Homo sapiens: one gene and its partners. The protein of the gene in region 2 purifies or fractionates together with the protein of the main gene of each other region. This does not show direct contact. Each region holds a gene or a part of one and is shown on either strand. Other genes may lie near its edges.

Region 1 (7,108 bases), on a different chromosome or scaffold from region 2:
ATAGCACTTCTGTCCCCCATGATACTGTGAATCCTACACGGACTTCAGAGACCGAGGCAGACAGAACAGGCTGGGAGAGGAGGCCATGATAAGTAACAACAAAAAAGGAATAGTATATTCCCATCTATATAAATGTGAGTATAACATTTATACAGTCAGTATATAACTATTAATTGTTAGGATATAACAATTAGTATAATCCCATCTATATAAAACAATAAAGGAAATAACACTCATTCACACACACACAAAAGCCAGCATCCGGCCCCGCTGCTCATGCCGCATACCTCTGCAGGTGGTAGATCTTGTGTGTGTACTGGCCTTTCTCACCGTCCTTCTCGTAGGGCTCATTCACCAGGACCTCCACGCCTTCGCCACCACCCGTTTCATTTTTACTGGCCTCAGCCACAGAATACAGCTGCCCCACTTGATACTAAAGGACAGAGACAGATGTTATTCTCAACACGGACCCTTCTCAACGGTTACACGTAATCCAGCTGCCAGTAAGTGTCTAACTGGATCTCCCTGGGGTCTCCTCATGCAGGAGCTGGTTCTGGAGTTTCACATCAGGCCTTGCCCAAACCCACCCAAAGCAACTGACAGTGCTGCTCCATGGCCCCTCTTGACCCATCAGACGTGTTTAGTTCATCCTTCTCATTTTCACACCACCCATCAGGGTTTATTTTTATTTATTTATTTTTTTTGGTAGAGACAGGGTCTTGCTATGTTGCCCAGGCTGGTCTCAAAACTCCTGGTCTCAAGCCATCCTCCCACCTTGGCCTGCCAAAGTGCTGAGATTATAAGCATGAGCCACCGTTCCCAGTCAATCCATCAGGATTTAAAGAGGCAGGTGAGTCTACTTAACCTGACACCACCACGCAGAAAACAGATTAGAGTCCAAAGGAGCTTTTGTGCTAAGCCTGCTTCTGGTATTAAGACCCCAGAAGACCTAGGTTGGTTGCTAGAAATCACTGGATCTCACCCATTTAAATAGATCCTAAGACTTGATTTCTTGTCAAAGAAAGGTGCTCAGCGCTCTGTGAAATCCGCAACCTCTATCGTAAAACTGGCTCATCTACTCGCTTCTTCTCTAGTCTTAGGCCTCTCCTCACCCCGCAAGTAGCTCTTTCAGGCAATGAAACCTCTTGACATTTTCCAGATTCCTGGTGGGGCCAAGCAAGTATTCCTGCTTCCCACATGAGATATTACAGATTCCTGCCCCACAGTCTGTGCCGGCTGGGTGCACCCTCTGTGTTGGCACTTACTACATGGCAAAAACCTAGTTTTCCTTTATTTGGGTCACATGCCACCCTATCAAGTCACCAGTCAACATGATTGGCCTCCTCTGACCCTGTCAGGATGGGCCAATGACCTAGGCAGTGCCCAGACTTAGCCCTTCCGCCTTCTTCTCTGAGAAGCTGTCCAGAGGAGAAAACAAGGTGAAAAGAAAATGAACAGCAACATTTGAGGCAGGAAATTATGTCTACACCAACGGATGTGTCTTTCCTACCGCTGCCGGTGCTAATCAGGCATGGCTGCTTAGGGAGTATGAGAAAAAGGAAAAAAGCTATGGGATTACCCAACATGCTGGGGGGTGGAGGGGGACAAAGGGTTTCCTCGAGCTCTATGCCCAACTCCTGGCACCCCCGGGGGGAAGACAAGGGTGTTTCTCTATTTTTTTTTTTTTTTTTTTTTTTTTTTAGACAGAGATCGCACAGTGGTGCGATCTCAGGTCACTGCAACCTCCGCCTCCTGGGTTCAAGTGATTCTCCTGCCTCCTGCCTCCTGCCTCAGCCTCCGAAGTAGCTGGGATTACAGGGACTGGGTTTTTCTCTCTTTGAGATTAAAACAGAAAGGATGTATCTCTAGGCAACTGCTACTTAAATCACTGCCTCCAACAGCAAGGACAGAGGCAGCTTCCAGAGCTGCTTCGCCTCAAACTTAGAAACCTGCTCTACCAGGCAGCTTCCTAAGCACTGCAGGGAAATTTCTGGGCAAAATCTGGAAAGTGAAGCAGAGGACGAGGACAATTCACTGCTCACCACAAGGCTGAAAGAGCCCTAACTTTCAAAGCAAAATCCCAGAACAAAATGCCATGAAAAGGGGCAGCAATCGAGGCTCAGTGAAATCCATACAGAGGAACATATGGGTGAAAGCCAGTCACCTTGACCTTGCTAATCCTAAGCTGCATCAGTGCTGCCTCAATGCCCCCCTGGAGCCCCAAGCTGTCCCTGTGCCTCTCCAAGTCCACCACCCAGCTAGGCACACATGAAAACCCGTCAGGTGGGTCAGGGCTTGGCTGAGCCAGGGGTGCCTAAGAAGGAGCAGTAACTCCGTTTCAGAGAAGAGCCGTAAGAACATCTAACCACTGACTCAGCAATCCTAAAGGACAGGCTGGGGAGAGGGCCTGGTGGAGGGGGCGAGGTTCCCAGCTAGTGGTACCACTTGGGAAGGGGGACCCCAGGCAGAGACTAATCGCCTTCATTTGGTTTCTCTTCAGCTGCAGGAATCAGAGGGCAGGTTCTAAGAGGATCAGCCTGTTGGCTGGCATCTTCCCCCTTCAATCTCTCTTGATATTCTGATCCTTTAATCCCAATGAGACAAGTGAAGGCAGTTTTGTTAATCTAAAGGGGTAAGCAAGACTGGCCTGCACAAGCTACAAGTGAAGGGCGCTTTTCACGTTAGAGTTCCTTTTGGCACAGCTGCTCTGCCCCCTGGGAAAGCAGCCAGACTCGGATGGGGCAGAGATAGGAGTGGGAGGGTCAGATCATTAAATCAGATTTAAAAAACTCCAACAGGACTGGGAATCTAGCCTCCTCAGACCTGCGATGATGTTCCTTGCTCTTGAGATCTGTTCACCTATCCCAGAGAACTAAGACATTCAACTAAGAAAAACAGACTCCACAACTTTGGCAATCTGGGAGGGGGAGCCCAGTGGGTGGGCCTGAAATACTGACATGAAACACGTCATAAACAACAGTACAGCTTTGGTCCCACCAACATGGCCCTGTCAGGCTGGGTACCAGAGGGGGACTGGTGCCGTGAATCTCTGGAAACAAGAAGTGAAGCAGCCCGGCCGACCTGTGCCAGGAAGCACTGGTGGACACACCCCGTCAAACAGCCAGGGCTTTCTCGCTCTGCTGCACAACGCCCAGACACTCAGGGTTAGACCAAAGGCTCTGGCCACCCAGAAGCTAATTCTGCCCCCAAAATATTGATGCAGGCCATCGGAATGATTACAAAGGCATGACCTTCTCTTTCCCTTTCTTCACTTTCCCCTAAATCAGAAAACTGCAAAGGCCTCAAGTCATGGCCTCCAATTTAGGAAGTGAATCCACCAGTCACAAGATGCTGAGCTGTTCCCATAGAAACTGTTAAGTCAGGATGGGGATGGGGTTACTGACAAAGACTCTGAGAAGGTTGATCATGAATTGTTTCTTCTTCGGCCTTCCCCTCCAAGATTTTTCTAATTCTCTGAAACTAAGTTCCGCTTCGACCCTACCCAGGCCACGTGGTACTTTCTTGTCAATGGTTTCTTGCTGAGAACGGGCTGACCACTGCCAGGCAGACAGGTGAATCCTGATCAGCACTCACTTCCCAAGCTTCTGCTTAGACTTCAGGCTCTGATTACTCAACTCCGCCCCACCACTTCCTCAATGCTGCAGAAAAACCATCACAAGTGAACACCCGCCAACTGTGGATGCTCTCAAGGTGGAAGTTCCCCTTTCCTTCCAGTCTTGGCCCCACCATAAGCCATCAGTGTCTGGCCCTTCAGCCTTACTCCAAGAACAGCCCCAGGTGCTCCAGGACAGGCTGGCCCTCCTTGGTCTGCAGCACTTCTCAGAGACACTCTCGCCCTTCGTTCCATCAAGAAACTCCCTATCAAAGGATCCATTTCACCCCTAATCACCACACTAAGGAAATCCCGAGTTCCTGGGGCACATCTTCCTAACGATCGGGGTGGGATCATCCTGTACAGCAGAGAGGACGTCACTGGACACCTCCCCAAGAGCTGAGTTTGAGGGCAAGGGACGCGCTGGGCTTTCCTGCTTGGCCTTCTGGTTTGGAAAATCATCGCTTGCTATTTTCAATAAAGACAGCACAGGCTGGGTGAAGTGGTTGACATCTGTAATCCCAGCACTCTGGGAGGCTGAGGCAGGAGGACTACTTGAGGCAAGACCAGCGTGGACAACAGAGTGAGACCCTATCTCCACTATTTAAAATAAATATTATAAAATAAAAAAAATAAAGACAGCATGGCCAAAGCAGGTGGGTTAACAAGACCCTTCCAAGCCAACACCTGTCAGCCCAGGCACCTGGTTCTCAGGCCCCAGGTACATCCCCAGTGCCTACAGGGATTAGAGCCATCTACCCAGCCATTCCCTCATTCTCCCTGGTTCCCAGGTTCCCCAGTCTCGTTTCTCTTTTCTGCCCTTCCCAGAACCCCAAGATCACGGTCAAGGCCCACCTCTGGCCCCCTCCCCAGGTCCCCACAGCTCTTATCAGATATGTAGCCCACCCCTGGAGGCAGTCCTCTAAAGGGCCAGTGTCTGCCCACCCCTCTCGGGGGCCAACAAGCCTGGATGTCTGTCTCAACTAAATGTGCTGCAGGCTCTGCTGGCCTGATTTCATTTTTCAAAGGTGCAGTTCATATTGGGAACAGAGTGGAAGTTATCACAGGAGCTTCATGCTGACACTGCAGGAAAGAGAGACGGAGCCCAGTGACTGGAGGCACTATACTGGCTGACGAACCTCACCCAAACTCGAGTTTAACTGGAAGCTGGGGCGGGGTGGGGCTGTGATTTCAGAAGGAAGCAAAGAACAAGGCTGCGCCAGGAGAGGAGAGTGGAAGAAGTTCAGAGAAAGAGTGAGACAAGGGAGGTTCCGTGACAGTTTTCCGTTGTCCAAGAGACTGACTCTGAGTCAGCATGGCCTATGAACCTTCTTACAGCAAATCCTGCTGCCAGATCCCCACATACAAGGATGTCAGACCCAGGAACCGTAAAAGGACAGAGGACAAGCCAAGCCTATGTGTTATTCCCTGCCCTTCGTAAAAGGAGGGTTCTGTGTCTTGGTCTTTCCAGCAGTCACCTATCGTGGCTAGGGAGAGCCTCAAGAGATTTCCTGCCCTGCTGGTTTGTTGCACAACCAGAAAGAGCCACGCACACTTGCCAGCCGAGTCACGGACGTCCCAGAAATGCACACACTTGATCCCATCAATAATGCGTCCCCGGCCGGGTGTGGGGGCTCACGCCTGTCATCCCAGCACTTTGGGAGGCTGAGGCGGGCGGATCACTTGAGGTCGGGAGTTTGAGACCAGCCTGGCCAACATGGTGAAAGCCCATCTCTACTAAAGATATAAAAATTAGCCGGGTGTGGTGGCACACACCTGTAATCCCGGCTACTTGGGAGGCTGAGGCAGGAGAATAGCTTGAACCCACGAGGCAGAGGTTGCAGTGAGCGGAGATCGCACCACTGCACTCCAGCCTGGGAAACTGAGCAAGACTCCGTCTCAAAAAAAAAAAAAAAAAAGGGTCCCCAGACATGCACAGCCCCAGCAGATAAAAGGGGCTGGTTTAATCTCTACTCATCCAGCATACCAACAGCTTGGGACAGGTTGCACACAGTTACCCAGATATACAAAGTAAGTGCCATTTTTCAACTGAAAGTGGCACCACGAAATTCACATTGAAATATTTATGTTAGAACAAATAAGAAAACTATATAAACAGGATAACCACTCAGAGCCCAGCTTAGCCAATGGTCACAAACAGTTACACACAACTATGGACCAGAAAGTAAAAGGACTTACCTCATCTACAGACACAGGCAGGATTACTCGACTATAAGAAAGGGAAAAGAGAGTATCAACTTTAGGCTGTGCAATCTGCTCAAGGCTCTTTAAAGCATCATCCTAAAACAGTCAGCAGCATTCTATTGTGTAAGACACTAAATTCAGTGACGAAAACCCCACAGAGAATGGCCCTTTGAGTGCTCTGAGGACAGGACCCTCTGTGCCCTAGAGGTGTAAGACACTAAACTCTGTGACAACACCCCCCCCCCGCCCCCCCCCCCAGAGAATGGCCCTCTTAGTGCTCTGAGGACAGGACCCTCTGTACCTTGAGGCATCCCAGTTAGAACCCTGTGATTCAGTCCAAACCTATCCTCCCGCCAGCTACTTCCCAGGCCTCCACCTCACATTCGGAACTGGACATATGGATGATAAACTTCACCCAAACTTGCCAATGAGTCGTCCCCCCAACAAGACTTGCCAGTGAGTCTAGTAAGACAGGTTAACACAGGAGGACCTATCATGGTGAGGATTCAGACCCAAACAAGAGGCCCTGGGGACTTAAATTTCTGTGGACCCAACCTCCCAACAACAGCCCTCCAGGGGAAGGGCCAGGAAGGGACCAAGCCCCTTGAAGCCTAAGAACACACACCGGGCATCTCTGCTCGGGGCTGGATATTACAATCCAAGCTGCTACCACAAAGCCACCAAGAGGGCATTCAACTTATGTCCTGACCTCCAGGAGCTGTCCAAAGGAATCCCAATTTATCATTTTCTTTTCTTCTTCTCCAACTCAATGACCACCAATTGCTGGAGATGCCACCAGCAACCTATTGGAGAAGCCGTGGCCGGCAAAGTCTCCGCCAGGGCCAGAACCCCACAGAGGTGCCAGGGCTAGCAGCACTTCTCCAGGTGCCGTGCATGTGAAATGCAGACCAAGAGCCACCCCCAGTTCAAAGCTGTGAGGCGGGAGAGCTAAGACAAAAACTCTTGGTTTTACCCATACAAGTCCAGCCAGTTTCCAAGCTTAGACGTTCGGTCCCCAGACCCTTGCTGGAGCCCTCTGGGTCCTTTTGTGTCTTGCATGTTTAGTGAAGCATTAGGGAAGCATGAGCTGCTGTGCCTTCCTTATGCAGCCGGCTCACCACTCAGGCTCCTTGCTCCAGGCTAGTAAACAGCTATTTTCTAGTTCCACAAAGGTCCCCCAGGAAGCAAGAAGGACACAGAGGGGTCTGAGGAAAACATCACCTCAAAGGCAAGACACCAAGCAGGAAAGTAGCAGGAAAAACAAAATGGGCTCCAAGTCTTTACTGCCTG
Region 2 (7,085 bases):
AATGTGCACTAATTAGGAGTATGCCCACATACCTGGGGCCCCGATCTTCCCTGTCTTCTCTTGGGTGTGCGAAGTGACCACCTGACCCATTATCACCACTCTGTTTCTGCTGGCTGTGGTAGGATGTGTCAGAAGAACCCACACATATTTCCTTAGGATCATTAATTTCTGTAAAATAAAAGAGATCAGGTCTGTAGAGATCAAGATATATGCCAAAAAATACCCCCAACTTCAGCTTGGTTAATGACCATCCACTTTTAGTATAGAACACCAGTATTCTTTAGTGGCTGGGTATGGTGGCTCAGGCCTGTAATCCCAGCTCTTTGGGAGGCTGAGGCAGGTAGATTGCTCGAGCCCAGGTGTTTGAGACCAGCCTGAGCAACATGACAAAACCCCATCTCTACAAAAATTAGCCAGATGTAGTGGTGCGTGCCTGTATTCCCAGCTACTTGTGGGGCTGAGGCAGGTTGATCACTCGAGCTTGGGAAGTCAAGGCTGCAGTGAGCTGTGTTCACACCACTGTACTCCAGCCTGGCAACAAAGTGAGACCCCGTCTCACCAAAAAAAAAAAAAAAAAAGAGAGAGAGAGAGAACAGTAATCTTTAAATGTGTAACAATTTTTAAAGCATTGGCAAAGACTATGTAAATTTCACTTCTAGGTAGATCCTCTATAAAAACTCTTGTACAGGTGCACAAGAAAACATGGACAAAGAGATTTGTTTCTGCGTTTTTTTTTATAAAAGCCAAAAACTGTTAACAACGTAAATGTCCATCCATAGGGGCTGGTTACATAAAACAATGACTTGCTTTTCTACCTTTGAGAAGAATGCACTAGAACTACATCTATCCATAGGGATAATTCTCAGAAACGTATATGGAGTGAAAAAAGCAAGTTTCAAAATAAGCACAGGATACCATATATAAATTAAAAATATGCAAAGCAATACTATACACTGTTTCAGGGCATACATGTATAGAGAAGTGCTTGCAAGAATTCATATAAAATTCTGGACAAGGGAGGAAAGGAATGGGATTAGAAACGGGGTGGGGTACAGGGGAGAAAAGGAACACCAACTCTATGTGAAATGTTTTATTTCTTTTTTTTTTTGGAGACCGTCTTGGTCTATCCCCCAGGTTGGAGTGCAGTGGCGGGATCTCAGCTCACTGCAACCTCCGCCTCCCGGGTTCAAGCGATTCTCATGCCTCAGCCTCCCAAGTAGCTAGGATTACCAGCGCCTGTCACCATGCCTAGCTAATTTTTTTGTATTTTTAGTAGAGACGGGGTTTCCCCATGTTGGCCAGGCTGTCCTCAAACTCCTGACCTCAGGTGACCCACCCGCCTTGGCCTTCCAAAGTGCTGGGATTACAGGCGTGAGCCACCGTGCCCACCCTTATTTATTTTTATTTTTTTTTTGGGGGGGGCTTATTTCTTTAATTAAAAAAGACTTCAAATAAATATGATAAAATGTTACTCATTTTCAATTCTTGCTGGCAAAACACGGGTATTTGTTTTAATGTTCTTTGTTCTTTTGTCTTTTAAAAAATTTCTGAAGCCAGGTGTAGTGGAGCATGCCTGTAGTCCCAGCTACTCAGGAGGCTGAGGCAGGAAGATCTAGCCTGGGTAACATAGTGAGATTCCATCTCTTAAAAAAAAAATCATAAAAAGGAAAATCACATGAAAAGAAACAAAAATAGTGAGAATATCTATGATAACAATAACATGAGCACATTCAAATGAATAATTTTTTTAAAGGTCATTCAAAATTGGCCAATTCAACCGCACTTAACTTTAAGAGCTGTTGTCTGCTGCTTTCTGTGTTTGTGTGGTCTATTGAACAAGACTAAAGGCTGTGCGTGTGGGGACTGGTTCTTAAACTCATCAATTTTGCATAGAATGCCCAGCCACAGGAAGCAACAGATAAATGTTTGTGGAAAAAATAAAGAATAAGCGCTCAATATATAAATATTAATATGTAATTAATAACAAGAGCTACCATTTAATAATGGCCCACTATATGCTGGGACATTTAATTATAATTCTCTCCTTATACTCCTGTATAATTATTCCAGCTTACAGATGAGGAGACTAAGGCTCCGAGAGGTTAAGCTCTGGGCCAACAGCCATAAAGCTGGCCAGCTGCTGAGCCTCAACTTGAACCCAGTGTCAATGGCTCCAAGACCAGTGTCTTTCCACTGAGTAATGCCAGTTCCCTATGGCTCCTCATACAAGGTTCATCTGGACAGTTGATGCTTAAGATATATTTGTTGCCTGGAACACAAATCAGCTGGTTTATTTGTTGCCTGCGTTCAGAAACTGGAACACAAATCAAGTGGTTTTTTAATGTAATCACTAAAAGGTTTCCTTTAGGGCACCAAGTCTAGTGGGAGCAGAAGCTGAAGCCAGGCTTCCTTCTTTCCTTTTTTTTTTTTGAGACGGAGTCTTGCTCCATTGCCCAGGCTGGGGTGCAGTGGTGTGATCTTGGCTCACTGCAGCCTCAGCCTCCCCCTTGGCTCACTGCAACCTCTGCCTCCGGGGTTCAGGGAATTCTCCTGCCTTAGCCTCCCAAGTAAGTGGAATTACAGGAGCACGTCACCACGCCCTGCTAATTTTTGTGTTTTTAGCAAAGACAGGGTTTCAATATGTTGGCCAGACTGGTCTCGAACTCCTGACTTCAGGTGACCCACCTGCCTCTGCCTCCCAAATTGCTGGGATTACAGGCGTGAGCCACCGTGCCTGGCCATGAAGGTTATCTTTCAAGTCCATTCTGGCAAACTTTGGTGAGGGGATCACACACTGACCCCAGAACCAAGTCTTCATTCGGACTCTCTACCCTAGGTCAGGCACTGGACTAGACTCCAAATTCAATCAAGATGTCTTGCCCTGACACAACATGCAGTCTGGAGGGAGAGAAAGCCTTTGATCTTACATAGTGATAGCAATAAAGGGACACATTTAAAGCATCAAAGTTGGGACCAGGGAGAATAGCGTGGTGGGTTAGGGCTGGGGCTCTGGAGACCCAGACTGTCTGGGCCTGAGTCTGGTGGGTTTTGTTTGCTTGTTTGTTTGTTTGTTTGTTTGAGACGGAGTCTCCCACTGTCGTCCGGGCTGGAATGCAATGGCGAGATCTTGGCTCACTGCAACCTCCGCCTCCCGGGTTCAAGCGATTCTCCTGCCTCAGCCTCCCAAGTAGCTGAGACTACAGGCGCCCGCCACCACGCCCAGCTCATTTTTTGTATTTTTAGTAGAGACAGGGTTTCACTATGTTGGCCAGGCTGGTCTCGAACTCCTGACTGACCTGATGATCCGCCCGCCTCGGCCTCCCAAAGTGCTGGAATTACAGGCGTTGAGCCACCGCACCCGGCCAAGTCTCTTCTGTCACTGACTAGCCGAGGGTTATCTGTTTGGTGCAAGTTTTGTAACCTCTTAAGTATGTTTCCTCCTCAGTACGAAATGGCGAGAGAAGCCCCTACTGCAGAGCGTTGCTTGCTACCATTATTATTATTGTTATTATTTGGCTGTGAAGATCGGGTATGTGGTGTGGGAAGGGGGCTGGAGCGCCTAGCCGTGTCTGCCCCTCGCCCACCGCCCTCCCTGGGGGGCAGTCGGCACCTTCCTTGCAGCCCCCTCGGCCTGCGCTCCCGTGGTCACCCGCAGACTCCTCCACGCCGGGCTCCTGCGCGCAATCCAGCTCTGCTGCACCACCTGTCGCAGGCTCCGAGGGCTCAGGGTGCATGTTTACTTCGGCGACACCGAACGCCCCGCAGCTTTGGGGGGCCCAGGTTCGCGGCGGACGTCGCTACGGCCCCAGCCCAGCCAGAGAGTACCCTCTTTCCTTCTTCGCCAGCCGCTGGCGCCCTAGTCTTTACAGCCCAACGCTTCCCCGGTCGCCCAGGCAACCGCTGCGCACGCGCACTCGGGACGGACCGGCGCGCTGGGGACGCCGGGGGGTGGGGGCGGGTCTGAGACGGCTCCGCCCCCGGCGCGTACGCGGGTCACGTGAGGGCGCGGCGCGGCAGCAGCTCCGGCGGCCGAGACGGGGGCGGCGGCCGCGCGGGTCTGGCGGGACCGGTTTGGAAGACTTTGCCGGCCTGCAGGTACCGCGCCCCCCGCGCCCTGGGCGCCCTCTCGCGGTCCTTTCGCCCCAGACCCCTCCTCGGTCCCCTCAGCGCCAGCCGGCTGCTTGGCGAGACCCCTCTGAGCTCTCACCACGCCCCCCAGGCCCCGGGCCCCCTCCGCTGCATCCGGCCCCGAAGCCCCTTGGCGCCCCTGACCCCAGGAAATCTTCGTCCCTCCGTCCCGTGAGACTCCTTCCTTCAGACCAAAAAGCCCCAGCCCCGCCCCTTCACATCTCAGAGCCCCCCTTCCCCCGGCTCCATCCTCACGCCCCCCGCCGCGGCGCTGCACCCCTGTTCTCTCTCTTCCCCCGGGCCTTGCCCCCCAAACCGCGAACCCCGTTGTCGCCGGCGCATGCCCTGCCCTCCCTGCAGCCTCTCACCCGGCTCCTCCCCCGAGCGGCCCCAGCAATCGCCTCCTTTGTCGGTGCTTCTTTATTCTCATTTCTGAACGATTTGGTTTGAGTTGTTGTTGCCGTGTTTTTCTAAAATGGAAATATGCAGCGGTCGTGGGTTCAGCCAGGATTTCCGAGTTTGCTCGTGTTGACTGGGCCTTGCCGGGTGCTGGAGGGGAAGGGCTGGGAAGAAGAACCAGGCAGGTCCCCGTTCTGAACGTGCCACCCAGACGCAGCCCCAGAAACCGGATCGCTGCAGCGCCCCTCGGCGATCCCAACATGATGTGTACAGGTGACTGCGAGGCAGTCGGGGGGTCTCACAGTGGGCTCCCTGGACAGGACTCTGCGCCTTGCTATACCTCCATCTGAATTGCAGGTAGCCCCTTTCTGAGTTGTGGGGTCTTGGGTGTGCGACTTTACATCTATAAGACTCAATTTCCCCATCTATAAACGGGAGAGTCTGACTGCGCTTTATAAGATTAATGAGAGAATAAAGTGAGACAATAGGAATAAAGCACTTAGCAGAGTCTTTTGCATAAAGTGAGCTCTCAATTTTACTCTGACCGCCACAGGAGAGAGAGAGAGAGAGAGAGGGAGGGAGGGAGAGGGAGAGGGAGGGGGAGGGGGAGGGTGTTGATTGATTGATTGATTCAGACAATCTCGCTCTGTCGCCCGGGCTGTAGTGCAATGGTGCCTGCGATCTCAGCTCCTGCTACCTCTGCCCGCCATCCCGCACCCCGGGCCCAAGTGATTCTCCTGCCTCAGCCTTCCGAGTAGCTGGGATTACAGGCACGTTCTACCACACCCAGCTAATTTTTTTTTTTTTTTTTTTAGTAGAGACGGGGTTTCGCTGTGTTGGTCAGGGTAGCCTTGAACTCCTGGCCTCAAGTGATCTGCCCGCCTTGGCCTCCCAAAGTTCTGGGGTTACAGACATGAGCCACTGTACCCGGCCAAGTTTGTGGTTTTAATCACTGCTGGAATATTCTAGGGCAACAGAGTTGAACATATTGGTGCTACTTTTTTTTAAAGTAGGTTTTCAAAAATCGAAATGACTTACGCATGACATAAAATTTATCATTTTAGCCATTTTACAGTGTATAACTCAGTAGTTCTTGCTATAGTCACAATGCTATGCAACCATCACCAGTAACTAATTCCAGAACATTTAATCACCTACAAAAGAAACCCCAACCCCATTAACAGTCATACCTCTTTTCTCCCCCTGTCCCTCAGCAGCCCTAAGTTATCTTCTGTCTCTATGGATTTGCTTATGCTGGACATTTCATACAAGTGGAAACATACAACATACGGCCTTTTGTATTTGGTTTCTGTCCTTTAGCATAATGTTTTCAAAGTTTATCCATGTTGTAGTATGTATCAGTACTTCATGCTTTTTTATGGCTGAATAATACTCCTTTGTGTGGATAACACCACATTTTGCTTATTCATTCATTTGTTGATGGACATTTTGTTTGTTTCTGCCTTCTGGCAGTTGTGAGTAGGCCACTGTGAACATGCAAGCAGGAGTTTTTATGTGAGCAAAAGTTTCTAATTATCTTGGGTATCTGCCTAGGAGTGGGGTACTCTGAATATTTTAATTCTTACTGCATAAATACAGACATGATGGTGAAGAGTGTTGGATCTTGGATGAGAATCCAGGTTTCTAATTCCATGTTGCTGCTCTTTAGGCTCAGCTTCATTGTGCGTTTAGTCCTATACCAAAAATTGGCAGTGAAGGTAAAGACATCCCAAAAAGTCTTGATACACCAATGCTAACTTTGTCATAGTGCTGACGCAGAGTATGAAAAGCTTAAGTTTTTTTCTCAAGAGTGAAATTTGAGCTTTGAACACAAAGCAGTATTTGATTCTGTTTATTAAATAAAGTTGTCTACAGCAGCATGTCAGGTGCTGAGGAGGAATATTAAAGATGTGTGAGATCCGGCCGGTCACATCCCAGTGCTTTGGGAGGCCAAAGTGGGCGGATCACAAGGTCAGGAGTTCAAGACCAGCCTGGCCAATATGGTGAAACCCCCGTCTCTACTAAAAAAGAAAAAAATACAAAAATTAGCCAGGCATGGTGGCACACGCCTGTAGTCCCAGTTACTTGGGAGGCTGAGGCAGAAGAATTGCTTGAACTTGGAAGGAGGAGGTTGCAGTGAGCTAAGATCGCGCCATTGCACTCCAGCCTGGGTGACAGAGTGAGACTCTGTCTCAAAAAAAAAAAAAAAAAAAAAAAGATGTGTGAGATCCCAGCCTCACACCATCACAAAACGCCAGGAGGATTAAAGACTTAAACTGAAAAAGCAAAAATGTAAAATTTCTAGAAAATAATTCGAAAAAATTTCTTCATGACCTGAGGCTAAGGAGGGATTTCTGAAATAAAACAAACCCTAAAGCAGAAAGATTGATATATTTGTCTCTTTCAAAATTAAGACATTCAGCCAGGTGCAGTGGCTCCCACCTGTAATCCCAGCACTTTGGGAGGCCAAGGCAGGTGAATGGTTTGAGCTTACGAGTTTGAGACCAGCCTGGGCAACATGGTGAAACCTCATCTCTACACACACAAAAAAAATTTAA
Region 3 (7,108 bases), on a different chromosome or scaffold from region 2:
GCCTTCAGGCATGTTTGCCACGACTTCCTCAGTCACCTTTGTTAAATTATCTGTTGTGACATAATCTGTCTCAGAATCCTGTGCTGCTACAAGAAAAGGGTTTGATGTTTTGGTGCTAGTATTCTTCTCTGTTACTATTTGGGCCTTCTTTTCTTCTATTTTTTTTTCATCGGTCTTATTTTCTGAAGTAGGATCTCCTAACAAAGGAAAAATGTTTGTTGCAATGCTCTCAGTTGCTGCTGGGTTAAAGGGAGCACATGTGATATATGCTCCTGAACGATCCTTTATACCTTCTGGCGTACTGGGGAAAGAAGTATCATCATTACTACTCTCACTATCTTTTTCGTGATTAGTTTGCTCAAGGCTATCTGCAAAACATTTTTTATCCACTTTACTTTCCAAGTTGCTCTCGATTTTACCTCCAGCAGCCAACATATCACTATCTTCCTTACTATCTTTCACTTCCCATACTCGCTCAAATGGTTTGAAGTCTGCATATTCCTCCCTCATAGGAGCTTCCACTGCAACTCTCTTTTCATTAAAACTGTCTTTTGCTTTTTCTGAAGACACAACTTCATCCTCTTTAACCAATTTAGTAAGAGCTGTAGGTAACTCTTGTTGATTATGAAGGATGTTATTACTAACTAACTTCTCTTCTTCATCTTTATTTTTCACGATTATTTCTTCCCTAGGATTTGCTACTATTACGGCAGATTCTGCTTTTGGAGAGACACTGAACGATGATCCCATTTCTGAGTATTCTAATTCTGAAAACTCTGTTAAATCTCTATCTATGAGTAGAGTTTTTGCCTTCTCTGAGACCTCTTTAGAAGCTTCACTGACATTTTCTTGAAGTGTTCCTTCAGTGGGTAATACTGTTGACAAATTACCAAGGTATTCATGTTCTTTGAAAGAAGCGGCTGAGAGAGGAGACAGAGAAGGAAGAGAAGCAGCAGTTTCAAGCAGGACAGATGGGAAATCCTCTTGACCAGCCGAAATAGTGTTACCTGGCTGCTCCTTCAAGTCCATATTTTCTGTGACCATGGACAGAAAGGAAAGTTAGAGAATGCCAGTGTTCTCAGAGTTAATGCAAGTTTTATGACAGATCCAAAATAGTGTTAGTAAAGACTTACTGTTTACTAAAATGAAATGTTAATAGCAATTAATAAGTAACAATAGAGTAGACTTCAATCATTACTGAAAATATTAAGCTATTGTAAATATAACATATGCATGGCTACAGAGGCAATTACATGCTGTGCAAAGACAAATCAAGTCTGAGTAAACCTCAAATGTTATCAACTAAGATACTAATAGCTAGTTTTAGAGAAGAGAAGAATATCTGTGAAAAGAGTTTCGGTGACAGCATAGGAAAGAAGGGGCACTGGGTAAATGCCATAGACTGGTATTTATTTACAGGAAAGCCTTTCTGGCTATACTCAAACTGTATTTGGAGAAAGGGAATGGTAAATATGTAAATGTAATTCAAGGGTCCAAGAATTCCTTATGTACTTCCAAGTATTCATCAGATTTTGCTCATTTTTCCCTTGGGCATACCATATAAAATGCACATTTCAACTTTTCCAGTAGACAAAACATTCTCGGAACCATGCTAATTTTTAGTAAACCCAAACTACTCTGCATAGTGTTAACACACTAAAGAGTTAAAGTTAGAATACAGAGAGGATAAAAGGCTGGCAGAAAGAACTTGCCTGCAGAGGAGCGTATCACAGGCTCAGATGCAGCAGGAAGAGCAAAAAGGGTCTCATCTGAAAAACAAATAGAATATAACCTCAGCAGAAATAAAGACAGATTGAAAGGAGACTAAAGATAAGAGGAGCAAGCCAGGGTTCAGTTTGTAATAAGTTAACAAAAAACTTTACAGAGAAAGGGCCAAGATCAAAAGGAAGTCAGAAAAAGTAGTACCATTAATTCAGGTTAAATCATCATATGTATTATAAAGCTAATTAAATGTTATCCATAGAACCTATCATTTTTCAAGAGGCAATACAACCTGTTTATGTTAAAGAAACTTATGAATCAAAGTGGCTTTAAAATACTGTTCTACTTAACATATCACATCCCAAGCTTTCACTCAGGTTTTCACATAGGTAAATTGTCTTGTTCTATTCAGGCCAAAAACAAAAAGCTGAATTTGAATACAATTAACAACTACAAATGTTTAATCTTTTGTTATTGGCATATATTCAATTTAAAGAAACACTTTTAAAGAATTATGCATTTTCTCTTACATTCTAAGTTGTTACAGTCATTGTACATTGCTCTTTGAAGACATTAGTCCTGTGCCAATGTCCAAATGCCAGAGTCCAAAATACAAAAAAAAAAAAAATTAACTGCCTTTAGGATGACACCATTATTGGTTTTGCTTAAAATTAACCTAAGTGAGGGCTACTTGTTATTTGTATACACAACTAGTAAGTGAGAGACTAAGGCAATTCAATTCCAGAGCCCATTTCCTTAATCACTGTATGTTACAGAACTGAATGCTTATATTTCCTACAAAACTCATGTTAAAGCCCCAACCCCTAAAGTGATAGTATCTGAAGATGGGGACTTTGGGAGGTGATTAGGGTTAAATGCAGTCAGGGTGGGGCCCTGGGCCAAGGGGATTAATGCCCTTACAAGAAGAGACACCAGAGAGCTTGCTGTCATGCTCCCTGTCTCCCCAGGCACACACAAGAGGTCATGTGTGCACACAGTGAGATGGTGGTCACCTATAAGCCAGGAGAAGAGGCCTCAAAAAGAAATCTACCTTGCCAGCACCTTGATCTTAGACTTACCAGCCTCCAGAATTGTGAGAAGTAAATTTCTGTTCAGCCACCCAGCCTATGGTATTTTGTTACGGCAGCCCAAGCTAACTAATACACTCTATATTGGTAATATTAACTTTGTACAATGTCATCTTGTACCTGCAGTTGGGAGATCCTAAGCTAAAGATCTTCCATGGTTTACACTAGAGAAAGGCCTCTACCATCAGACAATTTGAAACAGCCTGAGAGATGACTGGAAGGTGATATTCCTTTAACAGAGAGAACCTAATAAATTTAGACAATTTCATCTGGATGGACAAGCTAGACAAGGCTGATCAAAACAGATAAAAATCCAAGAAATGTAGCTAACATGAATACGGACTTGTCTTCCAAGCATATTACCCTTAATGAATTAGGAGAGCTAACTTCACAAGGTCTTATATATTTTAGATAAATATATACTGGGCATGAAGTCATACTTAAAGGATTCCTAGATGAGGGTGATGACGGGAAATTTATGATGTGTGTTTAAAAGGGTTTCCTCCAACCTAGAGCACTAGGTAGGATGGGCTATCCAGTCAAAGGGGTAACATAATGGCTTATAAGATTTTTAAATAAAGTGCATATATATGTGTACACATATTTAAAAGATTACTTGCTATGTGATCTTAAATTACAGTTTCTCATTTGTAAAATGAAGGAAAGTTCCCTTCAGCTAAAATAATGAATTATTAGCTTGTATAAAACTGAAATTTGAGGGTCAAAGAGCAGAACCAAATAATTACGCAGCTGCTCCATCTAAATAACAGTTAACCAATTCTTAACAAAATGGTTGTCTTTTTTATCTAGACAATATAGTTAAAAGCCACTAATTCAGAGGCTAGTCTATCTGGAAAGTGAACTAGAAACATATATTACTGTTAAAGTTAGTGGGAAAACAAACTACATCTAAATTTGTGCCATAATTTTAAAGTATTTTTTTAATGTACTGTACTCTTATTCCTACCTAGTGCAATAATCTTTTATAATAAAAACTATATTCCTGGAATTTTTCTAAGTAAAAAAGTTTTCAAATTGGTATTTCAAAGATTCATTATGTTTAAGAAAAAAAGAAAAATCTTCATTTTGTAAAATGGGATTCGATCCAGTTACCCATAAAACAAGTACTACATTTCTAAAAGCTCTTTAAAAAAATCCAGAATAGTTAACTATCTTCTGGGACTTCAAGAATACAGTTCAGACTCCTAATAAAGCAATCACAGATCATGAAATTGAATTGCCTAAGTCCAAATCACAAATCCATCACTTACAACTGTAACTCTTAGCCTTTCTGTGCCTAATGAAACTTGTAAAATAAGGATAATAAGAGTACCCACCTAAAAATGTTGTGAAGGAGGGAGAGGGAAAGAAAAAAGAAGAAACAACTTGCCCTAAGTCACAGAACTAGGAGGCCAGAGGGTCAAAACATCTAATTCCCAAGTCTTTGTGCTTTATAATTATTATTATTTTTTGGCTAGGCTTCCTCAAAGCACGAGATGTGCTTCATCTTCTGAAGGATGTATTTATGTACAAGTGCAACTGGTGCAATCCTTCTTACTGTATCAGCCCCTCAAGTTAGTTCTCCTGAAACAAGGTAAATCGTCACCCAGTAAATACCTTGTAATTAGCAGAAATATTGCATTGATCAATTGCTTCTATTTTACAATGTAACAACATTTATAGAAACATTAATGTGGGACAGGTACTGTGCTGAGCCGGCACATTTGTTTCAGATGTTCATTCTGTTCTCAAAACTACCCTGTAAGGTAGGTACTACTGTTACCCCCATTTCACATACGAGAAAAGAGGCATTTAAATCATATCTAATTACAATACTACAAAAAACCTGCATTTTAAAACCATAGAACTTCTGCTTCTGGCTATGAGAGTAATTACAACAGACTAATTCTTCCAATATAAGCAACTAAAAATATGGGCAAAATACTAGAAGCAACTATCTTGAGACACTGGACAAGAGGCAGGACAGCAGTGTGAATCCTGAGAAAAGGGAAACCTGCAAGATGACTACGCTGCTTTCTGTCTGAAGGCACATTCTGGTCTACAGTACAGAGAGAAGCCTAAGAATACCGCACTCTTGCTAAGCTGAGGAGGCTGAGGAGTTGTCTGGAATTTGTGAGACAGGGTAACATACAAAGTAAAGCCTCACAGAAAAGGAGCTCCAAAAATCTGGATAGGGGTTCCTCTTAAACCTCTGGGTGAATACTACGCTGCATGTGCACAGCACAAGACTCGGCAAGGCCTAGCCAAGAAACCTATGGTAGAGCTGCAAATTAACTGGATTATATCGAAGGTCAGAAAGTGCTGAAGACCTGATCTAAAAATTCTGACCAGTCAGAAAGGAAAGATCTCTCTAAACACCTCAAGCAGGACTACTCTAAGCCTAAAGGATACTCTAGACCAAGAGTCAGCAAACCATGGCTCATGAGCCCATATTGTATTGGAACACAGCCACGCCCATTCACTTCTGTGCTGTCTATAACTACTTTTGCACAATAAAAACAGAGACGAACAGTTTAGACAAAGGCTGTATGGCCCACAAGCCTAAACTATTTACTCTAACTGGCCCTGTAAGTCTGCAGACCCCTACCTCTAGACCCACCCTAACTTTAAAATCAAAACTTGAAAGGATCAAAATGATTTTCCAGCAAATTAACTGCCTGCCAGAACAAAGTTAAAACCACCAAATCCATGACATGCAGTATAAAATAAATTAATGGACATGCAAAGCAGCAAGAAAATATGACCATAAATAAGAAAGAATAGCAAATATAAACAAACAAATAACGTAGACGTTGGATTCGCACTTTTTTTTTTTTGAGGCGGAGTCTTGCTCTGTCACCCAGGCTGGAGTACAGCGGGGCTATCTTGGCTCACTGCAACCTCCACCTCCCAGGTTCAAGCAATTATCCCACCTCAGCCTCTGAGTAGCTGGGATTACAGGTGTCTGCCATCACACCAAGCTAATTTTTGTGTTTTTAGTAGAGACGGGGTTCACTACGTTGGCCAAGCTGGTCTCAAACTCCTGACCTCAAGTGATCCGCCAGCCTCAGCTTCCCAAAGTGCTGGAATTACAAGTGTGAACTAACACACCTGGCCTGGATTAGCAAATATTAAAATGAAAATTAAAATAGCTATTAAGATATTAAGTACAGAAAAAGACAGACATATAGAGTAGACAGGGAATCTTGGTGGAGAAATATAGACTAAAGGACCAAATGGAGATGCTAGAATTGTAAATTATATTAACTGAAAATAATCACTAGATGAGCTTAAAGGCAGATTAGACAATACAGAAAAAAAGATTTATTGATAAACAAACTTAAAAAACAACAACAGAAAGTATCCAAACTGAAACACAACAAGGGAAAAGGGCAAGTGAAAAAAGGAACAGAGCCTCAGTGCTGAGAGACAATCAAGGAGTTAAAATACCTATAATTGCAGTCCCCTTAAAAAAAGCAACAGTGGCCAGGCATGGGAGCTCATGCCTGTAACCCCAACACTTTAGGAGGCCAAAGTGGGAGGACCACTTGAGGCCAGGAGTTGGGACACCAGTTTGGACAACACAGTGAGACCCTATCTCTACAAAAAACTTAAAAATTAGCCGGTGTAGTGGTGCACACGTGCAGTTCTAGCAACTCAGGAGGCTGAGATGGGAGGATCACTCAAGCCCAGGAGTTTGAGGCTGTAACAAGCCATGATCACGCCACTGCACTCCACCCTGGACAACACAGTTAAGACCCTGTCTCTTTAAAAAAGACTGAAGAAGTTAAAAAAAAAAAAAAAGAAAAAATGGCCTAAAATTGGACAGAAGTTGGCATTTTGAAAATACCAACCAACAGAGCCACAAAGCTCAATGTACTCCAAGCAGAATAAACACAACACCACAAAAAGGCACACCATAAGGGTCAAACTGAAAATCAAAGATAGAGACAACCCTAAAAACAGTCAGAGGAAAAAAGCAGGTAAACAACAATAAGAATGACCTCACCTCTCATTGATGTAATCCAAAAGGTAATGAACGCCTTTAAAGTTATGAAAAAACTGACAATCTAAAATTATATACAGATGATCCTCATTATTCATGGATTCCTTATTTGCTCATTTACCTGCTCACTAAATTTGTAGCCCCAAAATCCATACTTGCAGCACTTTCAGGACATGCAATGAGCAGAGCAGGCAAACCAGAGCGGGTCATCCAAAGTACAAGTTCCCAGCTGAGATGGAACAAGGTAACCCTACCGCCTTCTTGTTTCAGCTCTGCCACTGACTTCCCTGTT

What was found.
Region 1: the proteins of HSDL1 (region 2) and PITPNA purify together in Homo sapiens (co-immunoprecipitation; 2 studies listed by BioGRID and IntAct, with this or other methods). This does not show direct contact.
Region 3: the proteins of HSDL1 (region 2) and RTN4 purify together in Homo sapiens (affinity purification with mass spectrometry; 2 studies listed by BioGRID and IntAct, with this or other methods). This does not show direct contact.

Annotation. Positions count from the first base shown.
Region 1 is NC_000017.11:1,552,717-1,559,824, forward strand, and holds part of PITPNA (phosphatidylinositol transfer protein alpha isoform), read right to left. Parts: intron 5,844-7,108; coding exon 5,813-5,843; intron 434-5,812; coding exon 288-433; intron 1-287. UniProt on the Homo sapiens protein: Catalyzes the transfer of phosphatidylinositol (PI) and phosphatidylcholine (PC) between membranes. Shows a preference for PI and PC containing shorter saturated or monosaturated acyl chains at the sn-1 and sn-2 positions.
Region 2 is NC_000016.10:84,142,090-84,149,174, reverse strand, and holds the start of HSDL1 (inactive hydroxysteroid dehydrogenase-like protein 1), read left to right. Parts: upstream 1-3,997; 5' UTR 3,998-4,095; intron 4,096-7,085. Other genes in the region: DNAAF1 (dynein axonemal assembly factor 1), read right to left, coding at 33-168, 3,611-3,734.
Region 3 is NC_000002.12:55,026,452-55,033,559, forward strand, and holds part of RTN4 (reticulon-4), read right to left. Parts: intron 1,770-7,108; coding exon 1,713-1,769; intron 1,035-1,712; coding exon 1-1,034. UniProt on the Homo sapiens protein: Required to induce the formation and stabilization of endoplasmic reticulum (ER) tubules. They regulate membrane morphogenesis in the ER by promoting tubular ER production.